Regions from separate parts of the Homo sapiens genome. Here region 1 is linked to region 2. The links come from fine-mapping of genetic effects on gene expression. A gene starts in region 2. The other region holds a variant in brackets. All regions are shown on one strand. Distances are from middle to middle. Region 1 holds the start of ZNF160 (zinc finger protein 160). Region 2 holds the start of ZNF415 (zinc finger protein 415).

Region 1 (9,761 bases), 32 kb after region 2:
CACACCCAGCTAATTTTTGTGTTTTTAGTAGAAACGGGGTTTCACCATGTTGGTCAGGATGGTCTCGATCTCTTGACCTCGTGATCCACCCGCCTCAACCTCCCAAAGTGCTGGGATTACAGGTGTGAACCACCGCGCCCAGCCTTATTTATTTATTTGAGACAGAGTCTCGCTCTGTCACCCAAGCTGAAGTGCAGTGGCACAATCTCGGCTCACTGCAGCCTCTGCCTCCCTGGTTTAAGCAATTCTCCTGCCTCAGCCTCCTGAGTAGCTGGGATTACAGGTGTGCACCACCACGCCTGGCTAATTTTTGTTTTTAGTAGAGATGGGTTTTCGCCATGTTGACCAGGCTGGTCTCGAACTCCTGACCTCATGTGATCCACTCGCCTCAGCTTCCCAAAGTGCAAGGATTGCAGGCGTGAGCCACCATGCCCAACCCTCTGAACCATTCTTTGTCAGTGTAATTTGGAACAACTTTTCCTTAACAACAGCCAACAGCCCCTCCCAAGAGTAGGCTTTTTTTTTTTTTTTTGAAAGACAGGTTCTCACTCTGTTGCCCAGACTGGAGTGCAGTGTCAGGATCATAGCTAACTGCTGCCTCGAACTCCTGGGCTCAAGCAATCTTCCTGAGTAGCTGGGACTACAGGTGTGTGCCACCATGCCCAGCTAATTTTTAAAAATTTTCTGTAGAGATGGGAGTCTTGCTATGTTGCCCAAACTGGTCTTGAATTCCATGATGAGCCAGGCTCACATTTGTAATCCCAACACTTTGGGAGATCAGGGCGGGAGGATCAGTTGAGGCTAGAAGTTCAAGACTTGCCTGGGCAACATAGTGAGAATCCGCCTTTGCAAAAAGTAAAAAAATTAGTGGAGTGTGGCGGTGCAAACCCGTAGTCCCAGCCACTTGGGAGACTGAGGTAGGAGGATCACTTGATTCCAGAGTTGAAGGCTGCAGTGAGCTATGGTCTTGACACTGCACTCTAGCCTGGGCAACAGAGCAAGATGCTCTCTCAAAAAATAAATAGACCGGGCACGGTGGCTCACGCCTGTGATCCCAGCACTTTGGGAGGCCAAGGTGTGGGGGATCCCTCGAGCTCAGGAGTTCGAGTCTAGCCTGAGCAACATGGCGAAACCCCGTCTCTACAAAAAGTACAAAAATTAACTAGGCATGGTGACGTGTGCTTGTAGTCCCAGCTACTGGGGAGATTGAGGTGGGAGGATTGCCTGAGCCTGGTAGATGAAAAGTTGCAGTGAGCAGAGATGACGCCACTGCACTCCAGCCTGGGTGACAGAGCAAGACTCTCTCCAAGAAATATGTAACATTTTTAACATAACATAACATAACATAACAAACTTTCCCTGAATAACTGTAGTCATGCCAAGTGCTCATCCACAGCCTCATAACTTGTGCTTGTGCTTTCTAGCCTTGTTTACTCCTCCATATATGAAAAAAAGAAAAAAAAGCTTTTTAGTTTGTGTCTCTTGGACATTTTCAGATCTTGTGATTGGAACATTCTCTCTATTGCAATAGTCCTTTTGAATAAAATCTTCCTTCTCTAAGTCTGAATTTGTCATTTACAGTGGTAAATATCTTAATTGTTCTGAGATAAATTATGTATATTATCTTTTTGTGGCAAAGGACTTAATATATATTCAGTAGGTGAAAGTAGTTCCTGGGGCCAGGTATGGTGGCTCACGCCTGTAATCCCAGCACTTTGGGAGGCTGAGGCGGGTGGATCACTTGAGGTCAGGAATTCGAGACCAGCCTAGGCAACATGGTGAAACTTCATCTCCGCTAAAGAACGTGGTGGCGGGCGCCTGTAATCCTAGCTACTCGGGAGGCTGAGGCAGGAGCATTGCTTGAACCCGGGAGGCCGAGGTTGCAGTGAGCAGAGATCATGCCACTGCACCCCAGCCTGGACGACAGAGCGTGACTCCGGCTCAAAAAAAAAAAAAAAAAGTATAGGCGTTTGAGGTTGTCATCTCGCACGGAATAGAATAGTAAGTATAAAAAAGGACAATGCAATTTATATCTATTTTTTAAAAGTTACTGCTAATTTCAGGGCTTTTAAATTACTTAATTTTAATCGCAGAAACTTTTCCAGCATGCCATCACCGCTCCGTGTCAACCCATGTTCCCAGACTCCTGGGCTGCTTCAGCGTCAATAACATTACTGGGTAAACGCGCTAGCAAAAAATGCTTTCAACATAAACCGCCTCCATTCTAAGAGGAAAGCAGTTTGGTTTCCAAAATAACCTACACAACTGTGCTTTTAACTTGAAACCGTTTGAAACATCTACGCCGTTCCACAAGACACTACAGATGGCTCTGGGCGCTGGGCTGTGGGCATCACACGAAATCGCAGACCCTAACGTGTCCCGTCCAGCCCCGCCTCTCCCCCGGGTCCCTTCCTGGCGGTCCCTCTGCCTCCCTCCCCCGCGGTCCCTTCGCCTTCCTCCCCCGCGGTCCCTTCCCGCGGTTCCTCCCCGCCCTTCCCCGGCGGCTCCTCCCCGGCCCGCCCCCGGGTCCCTCCACTTGGTCACTCCCCACCCCTCCCCGGTGGCTCCTCCCCGTTCCTTCCCTGGGGTCCCTGCCTGGCGGCCCCTGCTTCAGCCCGGCTCTCTCAACGCCCCGCCCTTTTCCGGTTCCGCCCATCTCGGACCCCGCCCCGGGCCGCTCGGTCGCTTTCCTTCGCGCAGTTGCCCACAGACCCGGAAGTGGATCGTGCGGAGCAAGCATCACACCATGGCGTATGAGTGTTCCTCTGTGTAGACTCAACCTGCGCCTCGCCGTCCCCCATTCGCACACCCGATGCCCGGGGGTCGCTACGGACTTAAAATCTCCGCACCGCACCCTCCACCTCAGGTAAATAGGCCTTGCTGTGTGGGCCCGGAGACGCTTCCTTTTGGGTTAAAGTCGCCCTGAGGCTGGTCCCTGCCCCCGGTCTTTCTGCCTTGGGCCAAGTAAACACGGCCTTTCCCGGTTTTTTAAACGTTTAAGCAGGATTTTCCTGCTTAAAATCCTTTACTGACTCCTCCTCCCGCCCCGCATCGCTTAAAGTCCTCACCGCCTGCCCTGGGCGCCTCCCAGCCTCGCTCTCGTCGGCCCCTGGAGCGCAGCGCCGCCGACCCAGTCCCGGGGAGGCCGCGCCTCCGCCTGGTCCTGGGATCCTGCACATCCCACCCCTGTCCTAAGGCGCCGTCGCCCCCCACCTCCCTCCTCCTCGTGCCGGGCCCTGCTGCTCCCCAGGCCTCCCCTTCGCAGTCACCGCTTCCCTTGAGCCCTCGTTGGGGAGGTGCCCGGGGCCCGTCCTGTGACACCCGGTGTTTTTGCCTGCCCAGCTCCACCCCCTGGAAAATGTACTCCTCCAACATGCAGACATCTTACTACAAACCCTCCAGTGAATGTGTGGCCCAAGGGAATCAGGAGAAAGAGAGACAAAGAGCCACTGAGAGGAGATGGAAAAACCAAGAAAGAGAAAAGAAAAATGAGGGAGACCCATAAACAGATGGCAAAGTGGAGGATGGGTGAGAGATTTGCAGCGACAGAGTGAAAGAAGCAGTCAAGAAAGTAGCAGGGGCAGAAAAGCAATTGGCGAAATGTAGAGAAAAGCTCGATGTCCCGAGATGCAGGACAACAAGATAAGGAGAGGGACAGCAAAGAAGGAGCCTCCTCAGACAGAGAGTGGGGGAGAGGAGAAAGGATTTGGCCGAGGGCAGACAGAGCTGCGTGGTGCTGGGACAGCTGGAGGGGACAGCTGGTGACAAGGCGAGCAGAGGGAGCACCACAACACAGGGAGGCCTGGGATCTGGGAGTGCCAGAGAGTGGGGATAAGCGGGTGTAACAGGGAAGAGGGGATTTAACAGGGAGAGCAGAGGAGGCGCGGAGATGGGGTAAGAAAGAGGCAGAAATAGATGGAGATTGGGACGATGAAAAGATTGGAAAGAAAACGCCACAAGAGGTGAAACAAATTGGAAGAATGGAGTAGAACAGATATAAGGGGAAAAAACAAAGAAGGGAGAAACAGCAGAAGAAAAAAGAGGCACAACATCGTCAGAATCCTAGGGGGAAGATAAAAGGGGAAAAAGGCTGGAGAGACAAGGTGAAAGTGAGAGGCACAAAATGGGGGAGAGGAACACATAGTTATAAAGAAAGAGGGGCGCCCTGGGGCCAGGTGAGAGGTGAGTTGAGATTGGATATGACAATTTGATTTCTCTATTTATAATGTGTTACATTTAAATTGTAATCTAATTGTTTAAATTCTACATATAAGGATGAGAATTACAAAGCTCTGTGTAAAAGGCTTGTGCATTTTACAATTATGGCATAAGAGGCTAGCTTTCATTTGCCCATGCTGTTTAGCCATTGGGCAGTGACTTGCCTCATTCAGTTATGGGTCTCCCTCTTCCTGTTTCCGAGGATGGGGTAGGGTGGGGGCAGTGAAGAGAGGCAAGGAGTGACTGGCTGTGTCACTGCCTGGTGCCTTGTATTTACCTTTCATCTCACAGTTCATGCTGAAGGTTGAGATGAAGCTTATCTAATTCAGTCTCTTTTTCTATATGTAATTATTGCTGAAGTAAGCTTTTGTGGAATCCTGTATTGGCTCATGTCATTCTTTTCTAAATGTGATATATTTTCAATTTTTTCCCTTTGTAGA[A/G]TTCCATATATAGTTAATATATCATATACATATTAAATAATATATATATTTTCAAAATGGTTTCCATTTGAAGTTAATTGTGTTGAGTTCAGATTGAGGTCTGCATGCTTTCTACTCTTTATCATATATTGGAAATACTCTTTGGTAGTCAGTAGGTAACTTTATTCATTTTTATTTATTTATTTATTTATTTTTGAGACAGTCTCGCTCTTTCACCCAGGCTGGAGGGCAGTGGCGTGATCTCAGCTCACTGCAACCTCTGTCTCCTGGGTTCAAGTGATTCTCCTGCCTCAGCCTTCCAACTAGCTGGGATTACAGGTGTGTGCCACCACGCCTGGCTAATTTTTTGTATTTTTAGTAGAGACGGGATTTCACCATGTTGGCTAGGCTGGTCTTGACCTCCTGACCTCAAGTGATCCACCTGTCTCGGCCTCCCAAATTTCTGGGATTACAGGCGTGAGCCACCGCTCCTGGCCCTTATTTATTTTTTTTGAGATGGAGGTACTCTGATGCCCAGGCTGTAGTGCACTCGTGTGACCTTGGCTCACTGCCACCTCCACCTCCCAGGTTCAAGTGATTCTCCTGCCTCAGCCTCCCAAGTAGCTGGGATTACAGGCACCTGCCACCACACCTGGCTAATTTTCGTATTTTTAGTAGAGATAGGGTTTCATTATATTGGCCAGGCTGGTCTTAAACTCCTGATCTCAAGTGATCCCTCCCAAAGTGCTGGGATTACAGGCGTGAGCCACTACGCCGGCCATCAGTAGGAATTTTAGATGGTATGAATGTGTATTTGGTAAAGATATCAGTGACGCTTTTTTTTTTAACGTTAACATAAGAACCTATTAACTAATTTTTTTTTGGAGACGGAGTCTCGCTCTGTCGCCCAGGCTGGAGTGCAGTGGTGCAATCTCGGCTCACTGCAAGCTCCGCCTCCCAGGTTCATGCCATTCTCCTGCCTCAGCCTCCCAAGTAGTTGGGACTACAGGCAGCCGCCACCACGCCCGGCAAATTTTTTGTATTTTTAGTAGAGATGGGGTTTCACCATGGTAGCCAGGATGGTCTCGATCTCCTGACCTCGTGATCCACCCGCCTCAGCCTCCCAAAGTGCTGGGATTACAGGCGTGAGCCACCACGCTCGGCCAACTTATTTGTTACTAGTCAGTTTTCTTCCCTTATGTCATCTCTTAAAATAGTGACCTGTGAACTACTAAGCAGATGTCCCCCTCAAGTCCCTTTTGTCAGTTCTATTTTCTGTAAATGTGGAAAGATGGGCTGGATTGACTCAAAACCTTATTCCAGCAGAGCTTATGTGTTCATGAAAAAATTTGCTGAGAGAGCTCATCTCTATAGCTGACAGTCTTTCACTGTTTTCAACACCAATAGCCATGTTTTCACAGTTCTGCGTTTCATTAGTATGTTGTGTTTTTCTGGAAAAGAGGAATTAAATGTTTGGGATCAATGTGATAAAGCCATGAAAGGGAAGTTTCTTTTGCCCAGGTATGTGAAAGAAGATCCTGGAATTTTCCAGGGGAGGCGTGAGAAAGTCTAGTGTTGCCCATTAGCCCTTCGAGGCCGTCATAGAGTCAGATACATCTTCTAATTCAACTTGGATGACTTAGTGAAACATCTCCCCGTCTAGCCCTCAGTAAATCCACCTGCAACGTGAAGGTGAGGGACTCAGTCAATATACCTCAGTCTGGGCAATACTAATCCCCTTAATGTTTGGCAGAATTGGGTGTACATCTGTGTTTTGCAGTTCTTCTAGGAATTGGGGAGTGCCCACTGCAATTAAAAATTTAAATGGGACTCAGTCCTTTAAAATTTAAAACAAAACAAAACCAAAACCACAAGGATGGAAGCTGGGGTGTAGACTCAGAGGCAGAGAGACCATCTTTGGAGGCCTTTCTCTGCATTAGAGTTATGGCTAAATCTAAAGCAGTCATGTCAGTCCCTGGTAGGGAACCCTCCACCGGCTTCCCGTGTTCCCCAGGACAAAAGCCCAACTCCTCACTGTGGCTCCACAGCCCTGCGTCCAGGGCCCCTGCCAGTGTCCAGCCTCCTCCTGGGAGCTTGCCCTCATCTCATGACTCCCTCTGCCCTAGTCACATTTGTTTTTCTCTTTTCCCAAACATCAAAACCTTTCCTGTCTCAGTCTTTGTCCCTCCTCTTACCCTATGTCCCCAAATCATCACAGCTCTGTCCCTTTCTTCTCCTTCGGGTCTAGCCTCAGAGCTGTCTTCCACCCTCTTGCACCCCCATCTGAAATTCTCTCTGCCTGTCAGTCTCTACCACGTTACTCAGGTTTCACTGTCTCCGCATCCATCACCACATCGGACACTCTTCTGCATGGATTATTTTGAGTGTTTTGTGTCTCCATCTTGGCCACGGGACGACTGCAGCACCTGCTCTGGGGTTGTGGTTCAGATGCTGGGGCTGGGGTCGGGCTGAGGAGTCCTCAGGGAAGACCAAAAGGATAGGGCGGGTAGTGAGGATGGTCTCATATTCTGGAAATTTCATCCGTAATTGGTCTAAACTTCCTGTGGCTATTTATTCCAGTCTATGTAAGAGCAGAAGGCCTCACTGAGGCCTGAAAAGCCCCGCAGACCCTGTGTCCTCAGCCAGTGCCGAGGCGTCCCCACCGCCTTACTCCAGCTCCCGGGTCTTCCGCGCTCTACACATCACCGGGGCCCGGTGGCCATCCTGGGCAGGGGCTTTGCCTTCCAGCAGGTGATGCGCTCGCAGTCAGGGGTCCTGGATTCCCTTCAGGAAGGGTGGCGAGAAGTTCAGAAGCTAAGTGGGCCATGAAGGAGGCACTCCCTAAACAGCGGGGGAATTTTGCAGGGGACTGTGAGTGGAGAGACAAGGGGACAATGGCAGCCTCCCTCATGAGATCTGGGGCCTCTCTTTTTCTTGGACATCCTCCGCCAGCTCAATCCGGCCAATCTTCACCTGCCTTTAAACTGGATTCCATGGTGTCCCCAAATTGGGGGCAATTCCTTCCAGCATGGCCAACTTCTAGAATCTAGACTTGAGGCCCACTGTCCTGCAGATAGCAGTTTGTGTCCATTCCTGCCGCATCGCTTGTGTCCAGAGGCCTTTCAATCCAGTGTGCTTCTCAGGCTGGAAGAGAAGTAGAAAAATGGGGACAGGTGAAGAAGTCCTTAGAGGTGTGGAGTGAGGCGTGGAAGCAATGCTGAGCCTCTAGAGGAGCTGGATGAATGCTGCATGCACCTGGCCCACAGGTGACTGTGGGCTCACGGGATGTGTGGCACACTTGGAAAGAAGTCTCAGGTCTGGCTGTAGCACCTGGAAGTGGGTTTTGGGGTGGTTGTGGGGCTGCAGGATCATTTTGTAATGCCCTGATGTCTCAGCTCAGGTTACCTGGGAAACAGATGCTGACACAGAGATTTGCATGCAGGAATTTAATTCGGAAACTCATCATCACAGTGAAGAGGACTGAAGGCAGTGGAATCAGGCAGAGAAAAACATCCCGAAGTGTACTTAGAACCAAGACCTAAGCTGAGCCCAGAGGGAGCTTCAGCAGCAGGAGGATGGGCGCCTTGGCCTGAGGGTGTGGATCCCAGAGCTGCTCCACAGCATCCGCTCCACGGGGTGATTTCTGTGGAGGCTTTGGGAAGTGCAAAAACCATCCTGAAACCCATAGAGGAAAGATAGGAAGAATCTCAGAGATTATTTTCTGGGTTGCCTTTGGCATTCGGGGTATTTTCAGTTGCAGATCAATAAGCTTTCAGTTGTGTTTTGGAAGATGAAATGATCATTTGGAGTGTTTCCTTTCCTGATGTTGGGGTCTAATTGCATCATTAGAGACATCTCTGTTTTATTGGTAGGTTTCAGTGGTATTCCCCTGTGGGGTGGAGTCACTATGAGTGGAAATACGTTGCCCTGGGTCAGTGAGTTCCTGGGGTGTTTGTGTATATTATTCCATGAGTTACTGGGGCTTGTGAGATTTCATAACAGGGCTTCTGGATCTTTATGAAGTATCTGGGGATTGTGGGATCTTTATGAAGTATATGGGGAGTGTGGGAGTTTGTAAGCGTGTCTGAGTCCAGAGGGCAACGGGGATCCTAAGAATCAGGCGCAGATGGCTTTCATTAGGGAGGGTTTGTTGTGGGGGCGTCTGTGGGTGCAACTCAAGAGGGAGTGATTATCAGGGTCCCAGAGTAAGGGAAAGATTTCTCCAAGAATCAGAGTGAAACACAGCACACTGACCTGCGGCCCAAAGGCTTCCACTGGGACTGTCCTTGGGAAGATAAAGCTGCCACATTCTTGCAGCCAGGCCGGTGGCCTCTCCCTGTTTATTCCAAGATAACAGAGTCACAGAGTCACAAGGCAGCTGGGGAGCTGAGGGGCAAGGTCCTTGAAACCCGCTGTGGAACATGGACCTTTCTCCAGTGCAGAGGGGCCACGGGGCCCTGGGAAGGGAGTTGGAGGGTTACAGCCCTGGTCATGGCAGGGAGACGCAGGAACTGGAGGCAGGAAGAGCTGTGTTCATCCCCACAGGGTGCCCCTCCGCTCAGGAATTTGTGCAATAGAATGGGGTGAGCTAATGGGGTCACATTTAGGGAAAGGAGTCTTTCTGTCCACCCAACACACATCTCATCCTATGCACACGCTTCTCCCTTTCCCCGTTGTCCTCTCTATGATGGGAAACTAATGCTTCCCCAGGCGGGTGATTGAGGGAGAGGACGGGTTGGTCTGTTTGTCTCTCTCCTTTCTCCCCTCCCTCAGGTCTCCTGCCTGCCTTTCTGCTGCTCTGTTCAGACTCTCACTTCCTGCAGTTCTGCAGTCAGTTTGCCCCACGCAAGACCCAAGGATCTGGGTCTGTGAATAATATTCAAGCCAACATCATTGCCAAGTGAGAAATCTTAGACCCCAGGACCTTTTTTCCATGGAGGGGCCTGGGCACAGAGACAAACTCTTCTTTTTGCAGAATTTAGGGTCTTTTATTGGCCACGTGGGTCTGCTGAGCCTCAGACAGGGATCCCATAGTCAGCCAGATGTGTTTCTGGGTGGACTTGCGCTTGCCCTTCCACAGGTTGGTAAGCAGAGTGGTCTCCATGAAGGGCCCTTGGCTCTGCC
Region 2 (9,761 bases):
CTAAGAATGCTATGCTCACATAATTTGACAAGACTAATATTCATGAGTTTCCTCTTAAAAATGAACATATATAATGGAAATTTTGTTTTTGTAGGTAAACTAGAAGTTTCATAAATTTAGCCTTATCATGTTTTTGGTAATGTTAATTTGTCACCTCTCCACAGGAAGTGTATTGAACTCCATTTACAGTTTGGTTTAGATATGGAAAATGAGGATGCTGAACAATGAAGTTTTAGGGAAATGTGTATTGCATAATGAGGCTTTCTGTGAGAAGCAGGATTGACTTCCCAAACTGGTCCAAAATGGCTTGAGAGAGCAGGGATAAATAACTTGCTTGGGGTGTTATGGTAATAACCTTTAATAAAAGGGTGGGTTGGGGTGAGGATCCCACACGTGATTTGAACTTCCATCTAGTGCCAAAGGAGGGAACACGGACATTATCAGCTTGGCCAGATGGGCAGAATAAGAAGAGGGAGTGCAGAGGTATAAATGGTGGTATAAGACAAAAATCACAAAATGGAAACTGACTGTAGTACAACACTGAATATTTACTCTTGCAACTTCTGATTTCTGGCCAGGCATGGCCAGAAATTACAGGCTCATGCCTGTAATCCCAGCACTTTGGGAGCCCGAGGCAGGTGGATCACCTTAGGTCAGGAGCTCAAGACGAGCCTGGCCAACATGGTGAAACCCCATCTCTACTAAAAATACAAAAATTAGCCAGGTGTGGTGGCGCACTCCTGTAGTCCTAGCTACCAGGGAGGCTGAGGCAGGAGAATCACTTGAACCCGGGAGACGGAGGTTGCAGTGAGCTGAGATCTCACCACTGCACTCCAGCCTGGGCAATAGAGTGAGACTCTCAAAAAAACAAAAGAAATTTCTAACTTCTTTGTTAGGGAAGACCTCCGCTTTCTTCATAATAGTAGATAATACTCTTCCTTTCTGCTGAACCCATAGGGCCCATTACACAACGTCATTCTTGAAAATATTTGTGAAATGCTGTTTAAATTGCCTAAAATATTTTTACAGTAGTTCAATGCAAATGAATTTGTGGAAAAGTTTATTACATAATATGATCAAGCAATTTTAGCCAAAGGGCATTTTTCCAAAGGCTGTGTTATATTCATGTCTTGTTCAGTTTATGGTATTGTGTAACATATTCTCCATAGCTTCTTTTCTTTTTTTTTTTCTTTTTCTTTTTAGACGTGGGGTCTCGCTATGTTGGCCAGGTTGGTCTTGAACTCTTGGCCTCAAGCATTCCTCCTGCCTCAGCTTCCCAAAGTGCTAGGATTACAGCCATGAGCCAATAGTAGTAAAATGACTTTTTGTTTTTGTATATGATTTTTACTTTAAGGATTTTTTCCTTCCATACATTTTAATCCAAATTATATGTTTACTGCATTTCTTCTCTGTGTTACTCCAGTGAACACTTAGAAAATACATAAATGAGGGTGTTGTTTAGAAATAAAATTTTGTGACATGAAAATGTATGTAAAACAATGGCAGGTACAGACTAGGTTCTCTGTAAATAGGAAAATGGAGTGTCCTTGTAAATCTTTAGTTCAATTAAAGTACAGGGATACTAGATGGTGAAATGAAGTCTCTTAATATGGAAGTTATCAAAGATCAGATGCTTGAAAATCAAGCGTGTGGAGGTTAACCAGCATCTGGAGAAGTAAATGAAAATACAGTTAATAAGAGAGTCCCCAAGATATTAATTATCATTTATGCAAAGGAGATAATTTCTCTCATTGAATCCCTGGAGGCAATTCAACTTCCTACTGTGGCTGGTATTTCTTTTCTGAGCCAGAGGATCTTACAGCAAAACATGATATTTGTGCAACTTTTGCAATGACAGCTGCCATTTAATATACTCCCCTTAGATTTGTTTCCATTTTAAAAAACTGATATATATTCTTTAATAAGTGATTTATCTTTGCATATATATTTTATATCAATCACATTTAGAGTAAGAATCACAGTTATTAATGCTTTATGTGTAACAACTGAATCATCAGCTCCTGAAATAAGTATTAATGATATTCTCATTTCAGAGGTGAGGAAACTTAGGACAGATAAGCAAAATAATCAAATTAGGCTGGGCACAGTGGCTCATGCCTGTAATCCCAGCACTTTGGGAGGCCGAGGCGGGGGGATCACCTGAGGTCAGGAATTCGAGACCAGCCTGATCAACATGGTGAAACCCCGTCTCTACTAAAAATACAAAAATTAGCTGGGTGTGATGGCGGGCGCCTGTAATCCCAGCTATTCGGGAGGCTGAGGCAGGAGAATTGCTTGAGCCTGGGAGGCGGATGTTGCAGTTAGCCGAGTTCCCACCATTGCACTCCAGTCTCAGTGACAGAGCGGGACTCCATCTCTCTCTCTCTCTCTCTCTCTCTTTCTCTCTCTCTCTCTCTCTCTCTCTCTCTATATATATATATATATATATATATATATATATATATATATTTAGAAAATGGGTAGAACTATGAAGAGACATTTCACTGAAGCAGTTATACTGAGATAAATAGGCACATAAAAAGATTTCCAACATCACCATCCATCAAATCTCAGATCTCAGCATATTCTGCTTTAAAAGACTCATCTTGTCACATTTCAGTAAGAGGCAGAATCGAGATTTGAATCCATGTTGTCTGGTTGCAAAGACAAAGCTTTTAATGATGATGCTACAGTAACAATGCTAGTTATTTTTGTCCTTTACTCACCATCTATACCTATTTTGTTAGTATCTCTTGTAATTTTTAAATGGTTTATCTTCATATATCATTGTGATTGTGGTAACTTTGTATTAAATCTATATTTTTATAGATCAATTAAGTCTATATTTTATAGATCACTATTGCGTATGCATCTTACCTAAATGAATGACAGAGACACTCATTACCACATAATCCTGTAAGAACGATTATCCAATCTTTCGAAGGAGGCATCCAGTACCTGAGGTGTTAGTTCTAGTGGTGGCCAGGCGCTGTAGCTCACCCCTGTAATCCCAGCACTTTGGGAGGCCAAGGGGGGTGGATCTCCTGAGGTCAGGAATTGGAGACCAGCCTGGCCAACATGGTGAAAACCCATCTCTACTAAAAATACAAAAAATAGCTGGGTGTGGTGGCGCGTGCGTGTGGTTGAAGCTACTCAAGAGGCTGAGGCAGGAGAATCGCTTGAGCCTGGGAGGTAGAGGTTACAGTAAGCTGAGATCACACCACCGCACTCCAGCCTGGGTGACAGAACAAGACTCTGTCTCAAAAAAAAAAAAAAATCACTAATAATGACAAAGTGCATATTTCTTGAGCTGAGAATATTTTTGTATCTGTGTTTCCATTGTTCGTTTCCAAAAACAATTACAGGTTGCTAATACACATCAACTGGACTGTTCAGTAGAAGCTCCTGTGTTTCTCATGATCTCTGACAGCATCCAGGGGTTCACATGGAGAAAGCAGAATATGCTGAGGTCTGAGATTTGATGGATGGTGATGTTGGAAATCTTTTTATGTGCCCATTTATCTCAGTATATCTGCTTCAGTGAAATGTCTCTTCATAGTTCTATCCATTTTCTAATTTGATTATTTTGCTTTTTTTTTAAGTCGTTCTAGGATTCTTTATACATTCCACATACCAGTTTTATGTCAGATATATGGTAGGCAAATATTTTCTATTATTCAGTACTGTATTAGTCCATTTTCACACTGCCTAAACCCTCCTGTGACAACCTGAGACTGGGTAATTTATAAACAAAAGAGGTTTAATTGACTCACAGTTCCGCATGGCTAGGGAGCCCTCAGGAAACTTACAATCATAGAGGAAGGCAAAGGCGAAGCAAGGCACGTCTTGCTTGCAGCAGGAGAGAGAGCGATCAAAGGAGGAACTATCACAGATTTTTAAACCATGAGATCTCCTGAGAGCTCACTATCATGAGAACGGCTTGGGGAAAACCACCCCCATGATCCAGTCACCTCCCACCAGGTCCCTCCCTCAACACCTGAGGTTTATACTTGAAAATGAGATTTGATGGGGACACTGAGCCAAACCATATCAAATACCTTTTCTTTCATCGTCTGAAGGTCTTTCACAGACCAAAAGTTTTTAATTTGGTAAATACCAGTTGATTTTTTTTTTCTTTAATGAATCATGCTTTTGCTGCTATGGCTAAGAATTTTTGAACAAGCTCTTGATTCTTACGATTTTATTGTGAGTAATTTTTTCTTTCAGTCTCCTACAGGATACCATTTTATGGTTTGATATTTTACATTTAGGCTATGGTCAATGTTGAACTAATGTCTGTACGGTTGTGAAGTTTGAGTAGAGATGACTTCTTTCCTGCTGTGGATATTAAGTTAGCCCCTCACCAGTTTTTAAAAATTCTTCATTCAATTCCCTTGGTAACTTTGTCAAAAATCAGTTGGAAGTACCTGTAGAGGCTATTTTTGTACTCTCTTACTGTATTGCATCAATCCATATGTCTTTTATTGCCCCAAAACCACACAGTTTTTATTACCTTTCCTATATTGGTAGTCTTGAAATCCAGTGGAGTGATTCCAGACACTTCATTTTTGTTTTTTGGTAACTTTTATGGATCCAATCACTGCTAGTTTTGGATTCCCCACCGAAATCCCAGTTCCCGGACTGCTAAGCTGCAGGAGACTCCCTAGCAGGATCGGGTCCAACCTGCAGGCAAAATAGTTTTAACATAAACCGTTTTCAACTTGGTAAGTGGAAAACATTTTGGTTTCCACCATAAGTGGCCCACACAACTCTGATTTTTTTACCTTAAAGCGGCGCAGACCCCGCCCACTCCAGCCATTCCTTCAGGCTGCCCGGGCTCTTCTCTCCGCGCATGCGCAGTTTCCTACAGGCCCGGAAACGGATCGCGTTGGGTGAAGGTGACGGCGTCGAGCGTGAGTGACCCTCTGTGTAGATTAAACCTGCGCTCCCTGTTTCCCATTTCCACAGCCGATGTCCAGGGTCGATACGGCCCTTAAAATCCCCGTACACTCCACCCCAGGTGAATACAGGCCTCGCAGTGTGGGTCCGGAGTCGCTTCCCTTTGGGTTGAAGTCGCTTTGAGGCTGCTCCCCGTCCCCGGCCTTTTGCTTCTTCCTCCCGCTTAAAACCTTTTCCTGACCCCCTCCCCCATCCCCGGGCTTTTTAAAGTCTTCACCCAAGAGGTGTATTCCCGTCCTGGGTGCCTCCCAGCCTTGCCCTCGTCGGCCCCTGGAGCGCAGCGCCGCAGCTGCAGCCGCAGTCCCGGGGAGCCTTGCGTCCTCTGCCTGGTCCTGGGATCCTGCAGACCCCACCCCTGTCTGAAGGCGCTGTCGCGCCCCACCTCCCTCCTCCTCGTGCCGGGCCCCGCTGCTCCCCAGGCCTCCCCTGAGCCCGCGCTGGGGAGGTGCTCAGGGCCTGTCCTGTGACACCCGATGTTCTTGCCTGCCCTCCTCCACCCCGTGGAAAATGCGCTCCTCCAGGATGCAGGCGTCTTACCCCAAACCGTCCTGTGAATGTGTGGGCCAAAGGGATCGAGGGACAGAGAGAGCAGTAGAAAACCTGAGACAGGAAGGAATGAGGCAAACCAATAAACAGATGGCAAAGTAGAGGATGGTTAGAGATTTTCAGAGACAGTAAGAGTGGAAGAAGAAGCCGAGAAAGTAGCAGGGAGAGAAAAGTAACTAGACACATTTCGAGAAAAAGCACAGTATCCAGAGAGATGAAGGACAGCCAGGTAGGGAGAGGGGCAGCAAAGGAGGAGGCTCCTCAGACAGAGAGTGGGGGAGAGCAGAAGGGATTTGGAGCCAGGGCAGACAGGGCAGTGTGGTACCGGGACAGCAAGAGGGGGCAGCCGATGACAAGGAGAAGCAGAGGGAGAACCACAGCACGGGGAGGCCTGGGATCTGGGGGTGCCAAAGAGTGGGGACAACGGTGTGTAACAGGGAAGAGGGAATTTAACAGGGAGTGCTGAAATGGGGAAGAAAGAGCCAGAAATATGTGGAGACTGGGACAATGAAAAGATTAGGAAGAAAGAGGAATTAAATACATTGCAAGAATGGAAAGAGCAAGTGGAAGAGAAAGAATAGAGGGAAGACGGGGAGGAGCAGCAGGAGAGGAGAGGGGCTCAAAATGAGCAGAATCCTAGGGAGAAAATAAAGGGGAAGGAAAGAGCTAGAGAAAGAAGGTGAGAATGAGAGCGATGTACGGAACGAGGGAGGGAAACACACCATAATGAGGAAAGAGGGGGACCCCAGGTCCAGGTGAGTTGTGAACTGACTGGATGTGATGACTACCTTTTGACCTGTTGATTTCTGTCTTTATAAGTTTAAAATGCACAGATGATGAGAATTGCAAAGCTCCTGTCTATTAAGGCTGGTGCATTTTATAATTATGGCATCAGAAGTTAGCTTCCACTTGCAATCCCTGTTAAGGCAGAGGGAAGTGACTTGACTCATTAATTCCACAGGTCATCCTCTTCCCCTTCCCTGGCGTTGGGGCAGGGGGAGGGGAAGGGGGAGTGGGAGAGTAAAGCTGGGCAGAAAGTGAAAGACTGTCACTACATAGTGTCTCTCTAAAGCAGGGGTGTCCAATCTTTTGGCTTCCCTGGGCCACATTGGAAGAAGAATTGTCTTGGGCCACACATAAAGTACACTAACACTAACAATAGCTGATGAGCTAAAAAAAAAAAAAAAAAAAAAAAAAAAAGTTGCAAGAAAATCTCAAAATGTTTTAAGGAAGTTTAGGAATTTGTGTTGGGCTGCATTCAAAGCCTTCCTGGGCTGCGGATTGGACAACGTTGCTCAAAAGGAACATTAAAAGTGTTGAGGCTGGGCATGGTGGCTCATGCCTGTAATCCCAGCACTTTGGGAGGCCGAGGTGGGTGAATCACAAGGTCAGTAGTTCAAGACCAGCCTGGCAAAGATGGTGAAACCCCATCTCTACTAAAAATACAAAACTTAGCCAGGTATGGTGACACGCATCTGTAATCCCAGCTACTCAGGAGGCTGAGGCAAAGCATTGTGTAAACCCGGGAGGCGGAGGTTGCAGTGAGCCAAGAGCCGAGATCCGGTGACAGAGCAAGACTGCGTCTGAAAAAAAAACAAAGAACAAACAAAAAAAGTGTTGTTGCTTTTTGTAATTGATTTGCTTTTTTTCTTACTAATTCCCTTTCATCTCATGTATAGTTCATTTTGCAACTTGAGATAGATCTTCATTAATTCAGTTTCTATTTTTCTGTATATAATTATTTCCAAAGTAACTTTGGTGGCATCCTATAATCAGCTCATGGCATTTTCTAAATATAATGTGTTTTCAATTTTTTTAGCTCCAAAATTCATCAGATATTTCTTAACAATTTCAAAATCTTTCCCTTTGAAATTAATTGTGTCCAGTTTTGATAGAGGTCTGCATGCTTTCTGCTCTTTATTATATAATAGAAGCATTATTTGTTGACTAGTAGGTAATTTTAGATTGTTTCAATGTGTACCTGATAAAGATGTCAATGATGTTTTTACCTTAACATGGAAACCTAGTTTAACTAGTCTATTATTCAATTTTCTTCTTTTGTGTAATTTGTTAAAATAGTAAGCTGTGAGCTGCATTTGGAACCAATGTGATAAAACCTTGAAGAAGTTTCTTTTGCTCAGATATGTGAAAGAGGGTCTGGGAATTTTCTTTTTTTCTTTTCTTTTTTTTTTTTTTTGTGAGCTGGAGTCTTGCTCTCTCACCCAGGCTGGAGTACAGTGGTGCAATCTCGGCTCACTGCAACCTCCGCCTCCCGGGTTCAAGCGATTCTCCTGCCTCAGCCTCCTGAGTAGCTGGGATTACAGGCACAGGCCACCACACCCGGCTAACTTTTGTGTTTTTTGATAGAGATGAGCTTTCATCATGTTGGCCAGGCTGGTCTCAAACTCCTGGCCTCAAGTAATCTCCCCTCCTTCAGCCTCGAAGTGCTGGGATTACAGGCACGAGCCAACATGCCTGGCCAGTCCTGGAATTTTCTAAGGGAGATGTGATAAAGGCAAACACAGCCCATTGGCCCTTCCAGGTCGTGACATCATAATTCAGCCACATCTCCTCCTTCTCACTCAACTCAGACCTCTCAGGATAACTTGGTGAAATGACTCCCTCTCTCAGCCTCAGTGAGCCCACCTGTAACAGAGATAAGGGACTAGACCAGAAAACCTCAATGTGAGCAACACTGACTCCTGAAATTTGGGGCAAAATTGGGTGTGCATTTGTGTTTGGCAGTTGTATGTGGGGGGACTAGCCAGTTGCAATTAAAATTTTTATTTGGATTTCTTCCTCTAAAAATGAAAACAAGAATGTGAAGCAGGGACTCAGACACAGAGACCATCTTCGGGGCCTTTCTCTGTATGAGGACATCACAGAGAAATCTAAAGCAGGTCACGTCAGTCCCTGGCAGGGAACCCTCCACCAGCTTCCTGTGTTCCCCAGGACAAAAGCCCAACTCCTCACTGTGGCTCCACAGCCCTGTGTCCAGGGCCCCTGCCAGTGTCCAGCCTCCTCCTGGGAGCTTGCCCTCATCTCATGACTCCCTCTGCACCAGTCACATTTGCTTTTCTCTTTTCCCAAATGTCAAAACCCTTCCTGTCACGGGTCGTTGTCCCTGCTTTTACCCTATGTCCCTAAATGATCGTGACCCTGTCCCTTTTTCCTCCTTCGGGTCTAGACTGAGAGATGTCTCCCGTGCCCTCCCACCCCCATCTGAAATTCTCTCTGCCCGTCACTCTCTATCACATTATTCAGGTTTCACTGTCTCCGCATCCATCACCACATCGGACACTCTTCTGCGTGGATTATTTTGAGTGTTTTGTGTCTCCCTCCATTGGAGGACACAGTCTCCATCTGGGCCACGGGATGACTGCAGCACCTGCTCCGGGGTTGTGGTTCAGATGCTGGGGCTGGGGTTGGGCTGAAGACTCCTCAGGGAAGACCAAAAGGACAGGGCGGGTAGTGAGGATGGTCTCATATTCTGGAAATTTCATCTGTAATTGGTCTAAACTTCCTGTGGCTATTTATTCCAGTCTATGTAAGAGCAGAAGGCCTCACTGAGGCCTGAAAAGCCCCGCAGACCCTGTGTCCTCAGCCAGTGCCGAGGCGTCCCCACCGCCTTACTCCAGCTCCCGGGTCTTCCACGCTCTACACATCAGCGGGGCCCAGTGGCCATCCTGGGCAGGGGCTTTGCCTTCCAGCAGGTGATGCGCTCACAGTCAGGGGTCCTGGATTCCCTTCAGGAAGGGTGGCGAGAAGTTCAGAAGCTAAACGGGCCATGAAGGAGGCACTCCCTAAACAGCGGGGGAATTTGGCAGGGGACTGTGAGTGGAGAGACAAGGGGACAATGGCAGCCTCCCTCATGAGATCTGGGGCCTCTCTTTTTCTTGGACATCCTCCGTCAGCTCAGTCCAGCCAATCTTCACCTGCCTTTAAACTGGATTCCATGGTGTCCCCAAATTGGGGGCAATTCCTTCCAGCATGGCCAACTTCTAGAATCTAGACTTGAGGCCCACTGTCCTGCAGATAGCAGTTTGTGTCCATTCCTGCTTTTGTCCAGAGGCCCTTTTGCCTTTCAGCCTAGTGTGCTCTTCATGCATGGAAGAGAAGTAGAAAAATGAGGGAAAGTGAAGAAGCATTCTTGGAGGTGTCACATAGGGGCATGGAAGCAAGGTGGGCCTCTAGATGAGCCGGGTGAATGATGTGTACACCTGTCCCACGCATGCTTGTGGGATCAAGGAGTGAGT

Evidence for each region. PIP is the estimated chance that this variant, and not a neighbour inherited with it, causes the effect.
Region 1: its variant is fine-mapped to the expression of ZNF415 in visceral fat (GTEx, PIP above 0.99). The same link has a PIP of 0.9 or more in pancreas and subcutaneous fat.

What each region holds. Positions count from the first base shown.
Region 1 is chr19:53,096,370-53,106,130 of GRCh38, reverse strand. ZNF160 (zinc finger protein 160) reads left to right here and starts at 2,709. Exons shown (of 6, transcript NM_001322131.2): 1 at 2,709-2,866. RefSeq lists a silencer at 2,257-2,666. The variant A/G (reference allele first, on the strand shown) is at 4,659.
Region 2 is chr19:53,128,008-53,137,768 of GRCh38, reverse strand. ZNF415 (zinc finger protein 415) reads left to right here and starts at 4,859. Exons shown (of 4, transcript NM_018355.4): 1 at 4,859-4,913. ZNF347 (zinc finger protein 347) reads left to right here. Exons shown (of 5, transcript NM_032584.3): 5 at 1-2,834.